Linked DNA regions of Homo sapiens: region 2 is linked to region 1. Evidence: fine-mapped expression QTL. A gene starts in region 1. The other region holds a variant in brackets. All regions are shown on one strand. Distances are between the middles of the regions.

The links. PIP is the estimated chance that this variant, and not a neighbour inherited with it, causes the effect.
Region 2: its variant is fine-mapped to the expression of DAW1 in fibroblasts (GTEx, PIP above 0.99).

The regions. Positions count from the first base shown.
Region 1 is chr2:227,865,809-227,875,405 of GRCh38, reverse strand. DAW1 (dynein assembly factor with WD repeats 1) reads right to left here and starts at 3,775. Exons shown (of 13, transcript NM_178821.3): 1 at 3,677-3,775. The coding sequence starts at 3,716. It also overlaps the pseudogene CRIPTOP2.
Region 2 is chr2:227,907,017-227,916,613 of GRCh38, reverse strand. It overlaps DAW1 (dynein assembly factor with WD repeats 1), which reads right to left. Exons shown (of 13, transcript NM_178821.3): 10 at 9,362-9,476. Among named protein-coding and RNA genes, the nearest start is that of DAW1, 40 kb to the right of the region's middle. The variant T/C (reference allele first, on the strand shown) is at 4,392.

The sequences.
Region 1 (9,597 bases):
TTTACTTTAAACGAGCTGAGAAGTCATTGGAGGGCTGGAGCAGAAGAGTGACATGGTCATATTTATGTTCTAACAGAGCCATCCCATTGCCATATAGACTGAAGAGGGGCAAGGGTGGAAGGAAGCTTTCAAGCTAAAAAGAATGGTAGTGGTCAGGTAGTAGAAATTGTTGGATTCTGCATATATTTTGGAGGCAGGACTAGCAGGATTTGTTAGTGGATGTGGAGATGAGAGAGAGACAAGGAAGAGTCCAAAATGTTTGGCATGAGTAAGTGGAGAAATGGAGCTGCAATTTGCTGAGATGGGGAAGACCATGGGAGACCCCCACATGAGATGTACGGTGGACATTCAAATGAATGTGTCGGGTGGGCACTCAGGTACTCAGGACTATGCGGGATGGTTTGTTTTTTGTTTTTCTGTTTGTTTGTTTGTTTGTTTGTTTTGAGACAGAGTCTTGCTCTGGCACCCAGGCTGGAGTGCATTGGTGTGATCTTGGCTCACTGCAACCTCCACCTCCCAGATTCAAGCGATTCTCCTGCCTCAGCCTCCTGAGTAGCTGGGATTACAGACCCGCACCACCACACCTGGCTAATTGTTTTGTATTTTTAGTAGAGACGGGGTTTCACCATGTTGGGCAGGCTGGTCTCGAACTCCTGACCTCAGTTCAGGATAGTTTTTAAGCCTTGAGAATGGATGAGATTGCATAGTGTATGAGTGTAGATAGAAAGGAGAAATCCAAGGTTGGGGCTCTGGGGCACTCCAACATTAAATAATCAAAAAGAAGAAGAGGAACCAACAAGATAGACACAGAAGAAGTGACGTGAGACAGGAAGGAAAATAGAATATGTGTCCTGGAAGCCAAAGAAAAGCAGAGTGGTTGAATGCTGCTGTCAGGTCAAGGCAGGCAAGGACTGTGGCTTGGCCAGTAGATTAGCAATGTGAATGTCATTGGAGATCTTAAAGTGGGCAGTTTCAGTGGGGCAATCCGCGTGAAAACATGATAGGAAGGGAGGACAGCACTTGGGGAGAGTATTCTTCCAAAAATTTTCTCTACTCTGAAGAGAAAGAATCAAATAAGATAAGAAGCTGGAAGGGTCTAGTAGACCTGTGAAGTGGTGCTGTTGTCACCATGTACCCATGCTTTGATAGAATAAAACAAATTGCCCAAGTTTTTTTATTATTGTATATGGTGAGAAGCCGTTATTCTGAACCCAGAGCTCATATTCTTAACCTACACTCCACAACAAAGAGATGAAAGCAAGAGCTTCATTTATTGGTACATCTATGGGAACCAGCACAGGCCTATGGGCAAAAAGAGCCAAAAGAAAATTATGGAATACTTAAAGGAAACAGACTATTAGTCTTAATTTTAAATTTTCTATATACTATCTACCTATGCCTAATTTAAATTTCGTAGATACTCTCAGCCTGATGCAGTGGCTCACATCTGTAATCCCAGCACTTTGGGAGTCCAAGACAGGTGGATCACTTGAGGTGAGGAATTCAAGACCAGCCTGGCCAACATGGTGAAACCCCGTCTCTGCTAAAAATACAAAAATTAGCTGGGCTTGGTAGTGCACACCTGTGATTCCAGCTACCTGGGAGGCTAAGGGATGAGAATCATTTGAATCCAAGAGGTGGAGTTGGATTGCACCACTGCACTCCAACCTGGGTGACAGAGCAAGACTCTGTCTCAAAAATTAAATTAATTAATTAATTACATAAAATAAATTTATCTAGATACTGTCATATATATAGCTTTCTCATATTATTTTAACTGGAATTCTATGAAGGAGAAAATGCATGTCTTTTCTACAAATGTCAACTTCCCATTGGAGAAAGTAGCTGTCCAGGATCGGTCTTCCAGGGAGGCAGAAGCAGCATCCCTTAAGATTTTCAGTGTTTATTTTCAGTAATTTCCATACCTGACCTCTCATCAAACACATCCATTTATCCATACATTCATTCAACAAACATTCCTGATCTTCTGTGTCACCAAATCTCTTCTAGAAGCTGAGGGTGCTACAATGATCAAACCACACTAAGATCTTAGTTCTCACGAAGTTTACATTAAATGGGAAAGGGGCAGACATTTGAAACAAAACAAGTAGAGTTTTGGATGATGACAAATATAATTTTTAAGCACTTTATGGCATAGAGTAAAATCAGTGCAGGCTACTTTGAATAGGTAGGAAAGTCTCTTCAGGTGGTTGACATTGATTGAAACTGAATGAAGAAAAGGAAGCAGCTTTTCCTAGCTCTAGGGAAAGCTGGGTCCAAAAAACGAATGAGTGAAAGGCCCTCTCTTAAGTCTTAGAAGAACAAGCTAAAGAAGTCAGAAGTATAGTGAGGGTAGACAAGTGAAGTTTTAGAAGTCAGCAGCACAGAATGAGCCAAATCCCACAGGTTGCGGATCGTATTCTAAGCATGATAGGAAGCTATTGGAGATCTTGAATTCAGATCCCACTGGCTCCTAGTGGCAGATGGATTGTAGGAGATGAGGGTGAAAACCAGGAATCCAGTTGAAAAGCCACTGGAGTGGCTCAGCCAAAGGGAATGGTGGCTGGAATGGAGGGTTGGACTAGGTTGGCAGCTGGAAGGGATGTTAGACCAAGAAATCTGTGCTATGGAAAGAGGGATAATCTGATGGATTCACAGAATATTTTGGACTTAGAGCTGGCAGAATGATAACGGAATGCCGGGGGTTGGGGGGGTGGGGGAGGCAGTGAATGATCACAGGAGAGAAACAAAAAGTGACCACCTAGGTTTCTGGCAAAAAACAGGCTGGGTGATGATGCCTTCTACTGGCAGGGCACAGTTTGAGGAAGCAGCAGGATTGGGATGGGACTGGAAAAAAGAAATCATGAGATCTCTATGCGATACCTCATCGGCGATGTTGACCAAGCAGTTGGATGTGTTGCAGGGAAAAGTGAGATATTCAACCTGAAATTCAAGTCCCACCCCTCATAAAGCTATTCTTAACAAAACCGGTCCAAAGTATCTTACCCTCCTTTGAAATCTTTATGACACTTCCTATCCAAACTTCATTGGGCAAGTGTATTTGGTTATCTTCTGCCTTGTGGTATGTTTTGCAGATTTTTTTCTTTTTTTTCTTTTTTTTTTTTTTTTTGCAGATGTTTCTAATTCAGAAGACGAGTTCTGAATTAGAACCCAAGAATTGCACTCCTATTTCTGTCCCTAAGAAGCTGGGTGATCAATGGGTGTCACTTATTCTTTAAAGGTGACCATGTCCTCACCTAAAATTAGAGTTAGGCAAGGATTAGGTAATTAATGTATTGCTTATGTTACTAAGTAATAGTTAAGTAATTTATTTCATAATTACTTCACTCATTGAAATCAAGCACTATGAACTTCTTTAAAGGTCCATAGCAGAGAGCACAAAGCGTGTACGCAGTAGGCACTCAATAAATGCAGACAGACTGACATGCACAGTCAAGCTAAACTCTTTAAATTCCTAAAAGAGTAATTGTTAATGTTTTGAGGAAGAGTCCAGCATCTGAAGGAATGAGGGGCACAGGTTGGGAAGTGCCCGACTTCCTGCCCCACCTGGGGACCCCGCCGCCTTTCAGTGGCTGCGCCCTCCTCCGCCCCAAACCCTCCCAGTCTGGGAGCCCAGGGTCCCACGTGGGGATGACGGGGCCGGGCTGGTGCGTACCTGGCGGGTAATACCGGAGCAGGAGGCTCTTGAGCTTCATTTTCTTGCTCTCTTATCCCCGGCCGATGGGCTTCGTAGCCTTGGAAACGGCTAAACAGCAGCGGGACGCGGGTGCGCATGCGCAGGTTGCACCGCGCGGTCCTGGGGCGCAGAGCTGGGAGGTCTGGCTCCGCGGGCGGTTGGTGGCGACCCGGGGCTCCGGCGCGCGGGGGGCGAGTGTTCTGGAGGTGTCTAGAGTGAAAGAGGTGAGGGCACCTCGTGTCCTCACTAAGGGCGACCTCAGAGGAGCTAGGCATGGCCGGGAACCGACGGCCTAGGCCACAGCCTGGGCTGCATGCACTTTTTTAGCACACTGCGTTTCCCAAAAGGAAGGCTGGGAGGAAAAGCCCATCGCTAATTACTACTCTAGGGCCCCAGCCCGTGCCCTGTCCTTGTCCTCCCAAAAGAAAAATGACCTCAACTTAATATTTTGCATTTCCTGACTCTGTGCCCTACATTGCTTTAAACGGTGTATGCACACATACTCATACAATCCTAACAAGGTGTGAGTTATGCACCACTTCTTAAGGATGAAGTAACTCAGAATTAGAGAAAGTGGAGAACTACCAGAGGTCGCAGCCTAAATGGATAGGCGGGAATGGAAGGCAGGTGCGTCGGAACCTACACCAGAAAGCCTACACCTGTGCTCTCAACCTGGGCTTAAAACTCTCCAGGCCTTCATGCGGCTTGTCCAATTTCTTGCCAGCATCGTTGTTTGCCTGCCACGTTTCCATGAGAAAGCCTGCGGAGAGACAGAGTCAGCCAACCAGCTTGTCAATTTCCTTTAAGGAATTTGGCCTCAACTGGAATTTCTCAAACTTGAGTCATTCCTGTGTTATCTGCGCAACTATGAGCCATATCTCTCCTTACCTCTTCCAGAGATCCATACCTAAGTTTTAAGTTCTTAAAATGTCTCTAGATTGACTCACTTATTTTACTTCACTTAGTAAAATGTAATCTTAAAAATTACCTTTACTTTTACAGTTACTGGCTGTTTACTGAAAATTATATGAAATTTAATTCCATCTGTGAAGTTTTTATTTCTAAATTTAAAATTATATGAAATTTTCAGTAAACAGCCAGTAACTGTAAAAGTAAAGGCAATTTTTTAAAGGCGTTGAATTGCTTGTTAAAGGCTGAGCCATCGGGAACTTGTGCGTCCATCTCAGGGAGACCTGGCCTTCAGAGATGACAGCATTCAGCCCCAGGAGGAGCCTGCAATTCGTCCTCGGTCTTCCCAGCTTGTGCCCCCCATGGGGATACAGGACAGTAAGGAGCCAAACAGAACCTGCTGCCTGAATGGGGGAACCTGCATGCTGGGGTCCTTTTGTGCCTGCCTCCCCTCCTTCTATGGATGGAACTGTGAGCACGGTGTACGCAAAGAGAATTGTGGGTCTGTGCCCCATGACACCCGGCTGCCCAAGAAGTGTTCCATGTGTAAATGCTGGCACGGGCAGCTCCGCTGCTTTCCTCAGGCATTTCTACCTGGCTGTGATGGCCTTGTGATGGATGAGCACCTCATGGCTCCCAGGACTCCAGAACTACCACCGTCTGCATGCACCACTTTTATATGCTAGCTGGCATCTGCCTTTCTATACAAAGTTACTATTAATTGACATTGACCTATTTCCAGAAATATGATTTTAGATATCATTCAAATTTCATGACCAGTAAAGGCTGCTGCTATAATGTCCTAACTGAAAGATGATCATTTGTTAGTTGCCTTAAAATAATGAATACATTTCCAAAATGGTCTCTAACATTTCCTTGTAGTACCAAATACTTCTTACCTCTTTGCCCTGCCCTCCCCACAAAAACTACTTCTTTTTTCAAAAGAAAGTCAGCCATATCTCCATTGTGCCTAAGTCATGTTTCTTGATACATGTAATTCTACCAAGGTCTTCTTAAAAGTTCTTTTAAACAATTGAATATTATCTTCAGATTATTAAAGACCAATCCTAATGTGGACCTTAGGATACAGTTTTGAGTAGAGTTGATAAAAATCAATTAAAATAGTCTCTTTAAATGGAAAGAAAGCCTCTTTAAGGGGAGGAAACAGAGGGCTGAAGGAATGGAAGTTCATCTGCATGTATGCAGGGAGACTGGGTAGGAAAGAGGAAGCAAATGGGAGAGAGAGGTTGGAAAACATAAAATGGGTTACTTGATGGTGATTAGGTGGGTGTAGAGAAGAAAGTTAAAAGGCTAAATGGAAGGGTAAGTTTCCGTCATCTATAGAAAGCTATATGAGACAAGGACTCCAATTTTTTTCCCAAAGGTGTTGTAAAAAGAATGAAGTCTCCTTATAAAAAAAAAATTATACCTCAATGTCCCCAACAAGACTGCTTAATAAATTATGTTTCCTCCAAGCTATGCAATTCTTTTAACTGTTGTAGAAGAGAAAATGTTCACAATATATTTAGTTGTAAACCAAATGATAAAACTACATATTGTAAAGCCAACTTTTAAAATACATTGTATATATGCGTATGCACAGTAAAAATGGAAAATATATTGACCTAAAGGCATTGAATTACTATATACTACTATATATTACTATATTACTATATACTAATTACTATATACTGCCAAAGACTCTGAACCCAAAACCATCCCTTTCTTTGTAAACAAAGGAAGGAAGAAAGGAAAGAAAGAGGGAGGGAGGGAGGGAGGAAGGGAAGGAAGGAAATTAGCAACTGTTTGAGATTGTTAAGACAGGCTACAAGACGGAATAGCACTCAACTGAGCCTTCCTACTTGATGTGTTCAGAAGATTGAAAAGATTGTTGAGATGGCAAAGCCTTTGCTACTAAGTGACACAATTTAACCCAATATAAATGTGCAAAAAAAAAATCATCTTTTTCTCACCAGTAGTAAGCATCCCATACTTGGAAAACAGGGAACCGTATGAAATCCAAGCTCTCTCCCAGCTCAAACTTTCTCCTAGCCACTAAGACACTCTGGAAGGACTTATGGAGGGAGGGGCAAAGAGTTTGCTCTATAGAAATGAGAAAGTCTTTGGTAGATTTTGGTCACCTATGTTATTGCTTGTGCTCATGCCATTTAAAATGTGATCTTTGGGTGGGGCACCCATTTAAAACGTGATCTTTGGGTGGGGCACGGTGGCTCTTACCTATAATCCCAACACTTTGGGAGGCCAAGTTAGGAGGATTGCTTGAACCCAGGAGTTCAAGACCAGCCTAGGCAACAAGGCAAGATCCGGTCTCTACAAAAAAATTAATTAGCTGGGTGTGGTACATGCCCCTATTGTCCCAGCTACTCAGGAGGCTGAGGTGAAAGGATCACTTGAGTCAGGGAGGACATCACCAATAGTGGGACAAACTGACATATATTACCTGGTATTACGATGCACTGAAGAGAACACAGCAAAGCCGGGTGCAGTGGCTCATGCCTGTAATCCCAGCACTTTGGGAGGCCAAGGTGGGCAGATCATAAGGTCAGGAGATCGAGACCATCCTGGCCAACATGGTGAAACCGCATCTCTACTAAAAATACAAAAATTAGCTGGGCGTGGTGGAACGTGCCTGTAATCTCAGCTACTCTGGAGGCTGAGGCAGGAGAATTGCTTGTACCAGGGAGTCGGAGGTTGCAGTGGGCCGAGATCGTGCCACTGCACTGCAGCCTGGCAACAGAGCAAGACTCTGTTAAAAAAAAAAACAAAAAACAATAAACAAAAAAAAACAGCAATTCTCTGGAATTCCTGCCCAAAATGAATTACTTGACTCAAATCATAAGGAAACATCGGAGCAAACCAAACTGAGGAAATTGTATAAAATAACTGTTGACAGTCAAGGAAAGAAAACTCTAAAGAAATACTTGAGATTAAATAAATCTAAAAAGGACAACTAAATGCACTGAGTGATGATAGATCCTGAACCAGAATAATAATTACTTACAAAGGGCATCGTTGAGACAATGGATGAACTCTGTATATAGGGATTGTGGTTTAGATAATAGTATTTTATCAGTGTTAAGTTTCTTGACTTTGATCATTGTACTGGTTATGTAAGAGAATGTCCTTGTTCTTAGGAAAAGTATACTGATTTATTTCAAAATAAAAGGGCATGCTGGCACCCTGATCTCAGACTTCCAGCCTCCAGAACTGTGAGGAAGAAGTTTCTATTGTTTGTGAGCCACCCAGTCAACGGTACTTGTTATGGAAGCCTGAACTAAGACATTCCCACCAGGACCTGCCTTGAACAACCAGAAACTAAATAATGAGTAGCAGTAATTTTAATCTCCTAAACCAATCCAGGCTAATACAGTGAAGTCACTCTAGGCTTCAGTTCTCCAAGCATGGTTCCCGGACCAGCAGGGTCAGTATCACTTAGGAATTCATCAGCAATGTACATTTTCGCCTCCCCCGAGTCCCGACCTACTGAATCAGAAACACTGATGGTGAAGTCCAACAACCCATGTTTAAATGTGCTTTCCTGGTGATTCTAGTGAATGATGAAGCTTGAGAGCCACTGTGCTAGCTTAATAGGTTACACTGGCTTGGACAGAACGAAGTGAGTGAAATTGGGCTTCATCTCCAATGATCAGGTCTTTCTGTGTATTCCAGGCAGTCTTCCCTGATTGTCAGGAACAGTAAATTGATTGTTCAACCACATCCTCGAATGTAAATGAGAACCAGAAACAACACGGGAAGAAGCTGGAATTTTCTACATAATTGGGTTTCAGATGCTCCAATGCACTGAGAGAGGACAGTGGACATCAGGCTGAGGGAAGAATCAGAAGGTACCTGGGAGGATGGGAGTTGGGGAGGGAGGTAGTCTCTAAAATCAAAATATGTATGGTGGCTCTGGTGGCTCACGCCTGTAATCACAGTGCTTTGGGAGGCCAAGGCAGGAAGACTGCCTGAGCTCAGGAGTTTGAGACCAGCCTGGGCAACAGGGAAAAACCCCATCTCTACAAAATGTACAAAAATTAGCCCAGTGTGGTGGCACTCACCTGTAGTCCAAGCCACTCAGGAGGCTGAGGTGGGAGGATGGCTTGAGCCTAGGAGGCGGTGGTTCAGTGAGCTGAGATCACACCACTGCACTCCAGCCTGGGTGACAGAGCCAGAACCTGTCTCAAAATATATATATATATATATGGATGTAGTATATCTATACATATATATATTTATATTTATAGAGAGAGAGAGAGAAAGAGGAGGAGGAGGAGAAGGAAGAAGGAGTCAGTCCGGGGGATCCAGATTCTGTATTTTTGAGGCTGGGCAAGGTAAGGGAGGAGTAGGGCTTCCGGCTGCGGCTGGGCTTGGTGGATTCCATTTGGCTCAGCTTCTCCTGGAGAAAACCAACTTCAGTGAGATGACTGCATCACTGGTGTTGGAGCCTCACTGAGAGCAGCAGATAAAAAGAGAGATGCAATCCTCTCCTAGAAAGAGAAGGCACAGATGCTCAGAGCCAGGCAGGAGCAGTCTGCTGTGCACAGGGTTTAAAGGTGACCTCATCACAGCAGGCCCCAGAGCGGAGGAACGGCATCAGGGTGGGGGCATGTGGACCAGACATCGCCATTTACCCTCTTCCTCTGCCTGCCTCCATCCCCACAGCAGGACTCAAAAGCATCTGATCTTACCTGGGACTTGAAAACTAACAGGGCCAGGGCCACTAATTGTATCATTCAATAAATGTGTATAAAGGACCTGCTAGTACCAGGCATGCTGCTGTTATAGATCTAATTCTGAAAAATATTGCAAGGGAGTTATTCACAGAAAGAATCAGACTTCGGGTGAGTTTGAAATGATTGTAGGTTGCCAGGTGAGGTGGCTCACGCCTGTGATCCCATCACTTTGGGAGGCCGAGGCGGTGGACCACCTGAGGTCAGGAGTTTGAGACCAGCCTGACCAACGTGGTGGAA
Region 2 (9,597 bases), 41 kb before region 1:
TATCATATGTAATTTTCTAGAAGATGATGCAAAATAGTAAAGCACTCTACAAGGTTATCAAGAAGATGACAGAGAAATAGTATAGCATCATACTTGGTTTTCAAGTAGATGACATGCACATTGACATTCATAATACGTGACTATCAAAGAGAATGACCTTGGTTTAAACATCATACATAGTTACCAAAGAGACAACGCAGTCATAACAGCATCATATGTACTTCTCAAGCAGATTTTGCACATATAGTGTGGCACCATATATAGTTGTCAAGGTGATAACACAGATATCTTGCAGCATCAAATACTGTCATCAGTGAGATTACTCATAATATCATGCATAAGTATTTTTAAATTGATGTAAACATAGTATAAATTAATGTACTGCTGTTAAAAACAATGCAGACATAGCATATAACCATAAGTGGTTGTCAAGGAGATGATTACATATTAGATATAGTGTAGCAGTACATTATTTTCAGGGTAATAGTCATACAGGGTCTCAATAAGACAATGAAGACATAATGTTGCATCATACATGGTTATCAGGGAAATCACAAAGATTTAAATGCCACAGATGTTTATTAGAAATATGTGACTGATAAAATAGCTATCATGAAAATATGCAGAAATAATGTATAATCATATGTAACTTTCAAGGTGATGGCACAAACATTGTAGCATTATAAATTGTCCTAAATGAGATGAACTACGGCATAATATCATAAGGAATTTTCAAGGACATGATATAGACAATAGTATAACATTGATGTGGTTATCAAGAAGAGGAAGTAGATACAGTGTAGCATTATATATGGCTATTAAGGATATGACACATAAGATAGCATCACATATGGCTGACAGAGACAATTATATTTTAGCACAATAAATGGGAGTAGTGAGATGAAACATAGTACATATATTCAGTGTTATTAAGAAGACCAAAACAGAGTCTAGTACCATAGGATTTACTACAGACAGGGTATGTTACAGCATCACACATCATTCTCAAGGAGATGATTATCAGAGGTTATTGTCAAGGAGGTGTCACAGAAATAGTTTAGCATCACACAGGGTCATTGCAGAAAAGACATAGTTATAGTATTAATCCCACTTGGTGTTCAAAGAGATAATGCAGACATCTTCCAGCATCAAACATGGTCATTAGGAAACTGACCCATAAAATAGCATACTTTATGGATATCAAGAAAAAGAGGCAAATATAGAATAGCATATACATAGTACTTAAGTTGATGACACACAAGTGATGACACATACATAGAGTAACACCATACATTACCATCAAAAAGATGACCCATAATAGATTGTCATTTGAGAATATTGTGGAAATAATAAAATCATAGTATAGCATCATATATCATCATCAAGTAAAGGATGAAGATATAGTTTACATCACTACACAACATGAATAAAAGCAGAGCATCATATATTTATCAAAGTGTGCTGCAGTAATACTATACCATAACACATACTTAATAAAATTATGATGCAGACAGAGTGTGGCACCATATGTTTTTGTCAAGGGTATGATGCAGACATTATGTAGCATCACTGTCATCAGGGAGTTTAGCCATAGTACAGCAGTATCATACATGGCTCTCAAGGAGGTGAAAAAGTCATAATGTACCAATATATGTAGTATGTTAAAAGATGATACAGACATAGTATAGCATGACATGTAGTTGTCATGGTGGCCTATAGCCTAGAATTATATATGATTATCAATGATGTAAACATATCATGTGATTAAAAGGATGACATATATTAGTACGACATTATCTAAGACAGATATCATATTGATTCCAACATAAATTTCAAGATGGTGATGAAAACATGTAGCATCATAGGTGGTTTTCAAGGTGATGACCCTGATAAGATGTAGCACAATACATGTTAATGCAGACAGTGAAGTAGACATCATGTATCCTCATAAGTGATCATCAGTGAGATGAGGCAGACAATACAATGCCAAATGTGGGCATAAGGGGGATGACATAATCTAGTGTAACGTCATATGTAATCTTCTTGGATATAAGGTGCACAGAGTGTAGCATCATACATGGTTTCCAAAGAGATGACACAGAGTGGCATCACATATGGATATCAATATGATGGCTCAGCGTAGAATCATAAGTAGTAATCACTATTTATGACAAGTAACATAGATCACTACTTATGACAAATAACATAGATCATCAATGGTTGTAAAGGAGATTTGGTATACATAGTATAGCATCATAGGTGGTTATCAAGGAGATGGTGCATATAGTATTATAGCACCAGCCACGGTTATCAAGTTTAAGATGCAGACATATTGTAGCATCATACATTATGGTCAGAGAAATGACCCAAAATATAAGATAATCCTCAGTACAGGATCATAGATGATGAAGACACAGTATAGCACCATATTTGTTTATCAAGGAGGTGGTGCAGACATAGTACAGCATCACTCACGGTTATCAAACAAATGAGGTAGACACAGATGTGATGTGAGGTCCTATGTGTTTATCAAAGAAATGCCACAGAAATATTGTTGCATTATAAAGGCCTTTAGGAACATGAATAGACCTAATGTAAAGAAAGAGAGAGAGAGAGAGAGAGAGATACAGATATATGACTCTCTCTCTCAATAGATTAGATAGATGATGATGATGATGATGATGAAGATAGATAGACAGACAGACAGACAGACAGACAGACAGACAGACAGATAGATAGATATGATGACTGTCTTCTGGCAGAAGGTGTAGACATGTTGTAATGTCATACATGATGATCAGGGAGATGACAGAGACACTGTAGCATCTCAGTGGCCATAAAGAGCATGACATATGCATAGTACAGGGATATATGTGGTGTACAAGGATTCTACAAAGATTGATTTTAGAACCATACACAGTGCCAAGGAGATGACACATGTATAGTATCACATGGTTATCAGTGGGATGATGTGCATGTAGAGTACCATCACATATGGGAATTTTAAAATGGCACATAGGATAGCATTATACATGAATATCAAGGAGACGACATGCATGAATGCAGCACTGTGGGTTTTCCTCATGGAAATAACCTATATTATGGCATCATAAATGTCACAAAGGAGCTGGTCCATATAAATATCAGGCATCATATGTGGTTATCAAGGAGAAAAGCATTATCTGTGATTTTCAACATGATGAAACACACAGTATAATGTCACATGTGGTTATCAAGGTGATGACTCAGAAATAGGGAGATATAACACATGGTTATAAAGGCGGTAACTTAGTATATCATCTATAGTTATTAAGGAAATGAAGTACACATAATATAACATCACATGTCGATATGAAGGATATTATGTAGTCATGTTTTAACACAATATGTGGTGATATCAAGACCCAAACAAAGGATAGTGTCACAAATCATCATCAAGAAGATGATCTTCTCATGCGAGGTTCTGAAAGATGAATCCTAAAATTGCATGTCACTTTGTTATCTAGGAGATGATTCAGATATAGTACAGACTCATACATGATTGCGATTGTAAAGGAGATGACAGAGAAATAGTTTAGCAATATACATGCTTGCCAAATGTTCAAGCTCCTTTGTAACATTTATGATGCTATAAGCAGTGATAATATTGTACAACATATAGCTGTCAAGGATGGGGCATCAAACATGACCATCAGTGATAGGACCCAAAATGTGGCATCATATATGGTTGCCAAGGAAATTTGGAGTGATAGTGTAGCATACATAGTTGTCTAAGACATACAGATGCAAACGTATGAGAGCACAATCCACAATTATCATGTTTATCATTGCAGACACATGGCAGCTTTTTATATGATCATCAAGGAGATAACCCAGAATATGCCATCCTACATGATTAACAGGTAGGGGATGACAGCAGTATAGCTTATGTATGGTTTTCAACAAGGTGACACAGACATAGGGAAACATTTTTGTTTTCAAGGAAATGAAGAATACAAATGAAGCAGAATAGGCGGTCATCACTGAGATGACAAACACAAAGTGTAGCAATGTCCAGACCTCCAGTGATATGAAACAGACATACTAGACAGTGCAGCATTATATATGATCATCAAGAAGATAAGGAACACAGCATGTAGCATACCATATTGTTGACAGCAGATGACACAGGCATAGTTTAGCATCACGTCCAGTGATCAAAGAGATGAACACACCGGATAACATCAAACATGATTACCAAGAACGTGACATAACTCGGGCGGCTGAGGCAGGAGAATCGCTTGAACCTGGGAGGCGCAGGTTGCAGTGAGCCAAGATCGTGCCACTGCACTCCAGCCTGGGCGACAGAGCGAGACTCCATCTCAAAGAAAAAAAGAAAAAGAGAAAGAAGG[T/C]GACATAGATATAGCATAACATCATACATGTTGACCATGGAGATGAGGCAGAATGTAACATTATACTTGGTTCCAGAAAAGACAATGTACACACATAAGTCAGTATAGTATGGTATGGTATGGCATAGAAGAGTAGAGCATAGCGTAGCACAGTATAGACACACAGACACAGCACAGAGCCAAATATTGTTGTCATGAAAGGATCTATACATAGTGAAGCAGGATATATGGTCATGAGAAAGATGAATCAGATAGTATAGGGGCATAAGTGTCAGAGAGATGGCACATATGTAATGTAGCTGCCATTTGTGGTCATCAGGGAGATGATGTAGACATAGTGTAATCTCATAAAGGTCCTAAAGAGAGGTAAGAGATAAGATAGCATCACATGTGGATATCAGGGATATAACACATACGTTATACAGCATCATATGTGGTAGTCAGAAAGATGATACAGAAAGTACATGTGGTTATCAAGGCAATGACACAGACATAGTGGAGAAATTATAAGTTGTTGCCAAGGAGAGGATGAAAACATGTTCTTACAAATAAAATGATCATCAGGGAGACAAAGTAAATATATTATAGCATCATCCTTAAATAACTAGGCCATGTCACCCATAAGGTATAGCACAGCCCTTTGTATAGGGCATGATGAAGTTACAGTGTAATATAAGTGGTTTCAAGAAGATGATAAAAACATAAAATAATATGCAGTTGTCAGGCAGAAGCAGCAAACACACAGTATGTCATATGTGCTATTATATGCTGAATTGTGTCCTTTTAAAATTCATATGTTGAAGTCCTAATTCACAATATCTCAGAATGTAATATATATATAATATATATAATCATGTATAATTTTATATATACACATGTGTATATATACACATGTATATATGTATATATGCTTATACATACACGTGTATATATGTATATATACACGTGTATATGTGTATATACACGTGTATATATGTATATATGTATATATACACATATGTATGTATATATACACATATATATGTATGTGTATACATATATATATAACTATACATGATTCTTAAATATATGCAAGCATAGTATAGTTTCATCCATTGCCAAAAACATGATGAGACATAGTATAGCTTCATATACAATTGTCAAGGATATGGCTCAAAAAATAGTATAAGCTTACTTAGGTTGTCAGAGAGATAATGCAGATATAGGGCGGTGTTATATGTTATCAGGGAGATGACACATAGCATAGTTTCATACAAGACATCAGGGTCTCATGGATGATTGGATGCAGAAAAAAAGTATCTGGGTGATGACACATAATTTTGTGTCATATGAAGATACCATGGATTCGACACAGATATGTTGTAATGTCACAGGTGCTTATCATGAAAATGAAGCAGACATACTGCAGCATCATAAATAGTAGTCAGGGAAATGATGCAAAAATATTGTATCATCATACCCTGTTTTCCAAATGGCATGGACATAGTGTAGTATCATATTTGTAGGTCCTGGAGATTAATTGTAGCCTAGTGTAATAAATGGTTATTATGAATATGATGCCGAAATAGTATAAAGTAACATATAGCATCTTATGGGGTTGTTAAAGGGGTGATATAGTAATAATATAACATCACACATCATTGTCCAATACATTTCAAATAATGTAACACCACATATGGCTGTCTAGAATATGAGGGGTGTGTGTGTGTGTGTGTGTGTGTGTGTGTTCATCCACAAATATATTCATCAAGAAGATGGGGTCTCACTCTGTCACTCAGACTGGATTATAGTGGCATAATCATAGTTCGCTGTAACCTTGAACTCCTCCTGGGCTCAGGTTATTTTCCTCAGCTTACTGAGTAGTTAGGTCTACAGGTGCATGCCACCACACCTGACTAATTTTTGTTTTAATTAGCTAATTTTTGTTTAATTTTGTAGAGATGGGGTCTCACTATGTTGCCCAGGCTCATCTCAAACTCCTGGCCTCAAGCGATCCTCCAATCTTGGCCTCCCGAAGTGTTGAAATAACAGGCATGAGCCACCACACCTGGCCATGATGCATATATTATATAGCATCATACATGATCATCAAGGAAATTGTCATAGTACAATATCATATATGACTATCAAAGAATAAGGTACGCATAACACATGTTTTAGGATACCTCAGAAACATCACGATGTTGTATTTGGTTGTCAGGGAGATGATGCAGATGTAGTATAATGTCATATGTGGGTAACAGGATATACACACACAGTGCGGCATTGTGATGGTTAATTTTATGTGTCAACTTGACTGTGTTAAGGGATACCCACGTGGCTGGTAAAACATTGTTTCTGGGTGTGTCTGTGAGGATGTTAGACTGAGTAAATAAGAGCCACCCTCACCAATGTGGGCAGGCATCATCCAATCCATTGAGGACCCAGATACAACAAAAGGTGGAGGAAGGATGAAATTCTCTCTTCTGGAGCTGGGACATCCATCTTCTCTGGCCCTCGGTCATCGAGCTTCTGGTTCTCAGATCCCCAGACTCCAAGACTGACACCAGTGCCCTCCTCAGTTCTCTCAAGTTTTTGGCCTCAGACTAAGAGTTACACCATTGGTCCCCCCAAGTTTTTAGGTTTTCAGACTTACACTGAATTATACCACTGACTTTCCTGATTCTCCAGCTTGCAGATGGCATATGGCAAGACTTCTCAGCCTTCATATATAAATATGTGTGTGTGTATACTTATATAATATTGGTTATATACTATATATATGTGTGTGTGTATTTATATACTATTGGTTATATACTATATATACTATAAACAGAATTATATACATAGTATATATAGTGTAATACATATAAATATATAATATATAAAAATGTACAAATATATAATATAAAAAATACATAAAATTATATATAGTATAAAACAGAACCAATAGGAGACAGACAGACAGACAGATAGATAGATAGATAGATAGATAGATAGATAGATAGATAATATCACCACCTTTCTAAAGGTGGTGATGTGATATAGTGGACCCTGCAGACATGTTGGCCAGGGCAATGAGGTATAAATACTATAGCATCATACATGGATTTCTAAGAAATACTAAGATATGGAATAGTATCATATATGGTTATAAATAATTGGATAAAGATACAGTATAGTATCATACATTATTATAAAGAGGATAAAAACAGTGTAAATTAAACATAGTCAGATACATGACATAGATACAATATAGCATCATATGTGGTCATCAGATAGATAACAGACTTGGTGTAGCTTCACACGTGGTCATCAGGTAGATGGTATCGATGTAGTTTAGCATCATCTGTATCTTCAGGAAGATGACACATAGTTCATACTTCAAATTCTATGCCTCACAGAATAGCATCACGCATGGTATGTGATGTCGATATGACATAGACTTAGTATAGCATCACATATGCTTGCCAAGGAGACATAGGATGATGGAGACATAGTATAGTACCATGTGGTTATCAAGGATATGGTGTAGACATAGTTTAGTGTAAAATAGGAAATTGTCAGGGAGATAATGTAGAAATTGTATAGTGTTAACACATGTTTTTCAGGAATATGCTGCAGACATAGAGTAGCATCATAAATACTTGCCAGGGAAATAGTGCAGACACAATGAATCATCACATATGTTTGTCAAAGAGATGACACATAATATAACATCATATATGGTTGTCATGGGAATGACTTGTTGTTCAGTATCATAAAATGTTATCCAGGACATGATGCATGCATAGTACACCAACACAGATGGTCGTCACTGAGATAATAAAAACATCATATAGCATTGCATGTGGCTTCAACGAGATGACGTGGACAGAGTGTTAGTATCATACATATTTGTCAGCAAGATGATCATGGTTTTGCATCATATATGATTATCAAGGATATGATGCAGATATGGCCCAGCATCAAATGTGGTTTTAAAGGAGTAGATGAAAACACAGTATAGCATAATATGCAACTTTCAACAAGATGATGCAGATACAGTGTAGAAATAAACATGATCCTTAGGCGATAAGACAGACACAATATCATGTCACATGTGAGCAACAGGGAGATGACAGATATAGTGTAGTGTCACATGTGACTGTCACAGGATTGAAGCACACCTAGGATAGCACTATATATGGTTATCAATAAGATGACACATAGTGTAGAATCACAGTGGTAATCAAAGAGACAATGTATAGCATAGCATCATGTATGCTTATCACAAAGATGCAGTAGACATAGCGGAACAGCACATGTGGTTATAGTAAAGGAGATTATAGCACCATTGATGGTAATTAAGTTGACAAGGCCAACATAGGGTAACATCATATGTAATCATCAGGGAAGCTGGGCACGGTGGCTCACGCCTGTAATCCCAGCATTTTGGGAGGCCAAGGCAGGTGGATCATCTGAGGTCAGGAGTTCGAGACCAGCCTGGCCAACATGGAGAAACCCCGTCTCTACTAAAAATACAAAAATTAGCCAGGCATGGTGGTGCATGCCTGTATTCCCAGCTACTCGGGAGGCTGAGGCAGGAAAATTACTTGAGCCTGGGAGGCGGAGGTTGCGTTGAGCCGAGATCGCACCACTGCACTGCAGCCTGGGCAACAGAGTGAGACTCCATCTCAAAATAATAATAATAATAAAAATCAGGGAGATGACCCAGAATATAGCATCATATACAGATATTAAGAAGATGACAAAGACCTCATATACCTCGTTATGTAGGAGGTGACACAGACATTGCATAACATTACATGTGGTTATCAGGTATATGATATAGACACACTATTGTGCCATACATGGTCACGATAGAGATGAGACATGGTTTTTTATCATAGCTGGTCATCAAAGAAATGACCCATAGTGTAGAATTATGCATGGTTATCAAGCAAAGCATAAATCTCTCCAAAAATTAAAAGAATGAACAGATCACCTACCATCAGCTGAAGCAGTTGCAATAAGCTTTCCAGTGTAATCAAAGCAGCTGTCTAGTATTTCATCATCATGGCCTGTTAAGGTTGCCACACATTTTCCATTTGTAGCATCCCACAGCTACAATTAAAAGAACAAAAAACAAAAAAAAAAAGACTATGACTTTCTGTCTGAAGTGTGAAGATGGCCAGTGGTCTTCATGACATGCTTATGGCTGGTTAAATAACTGTGCAAAAATCAC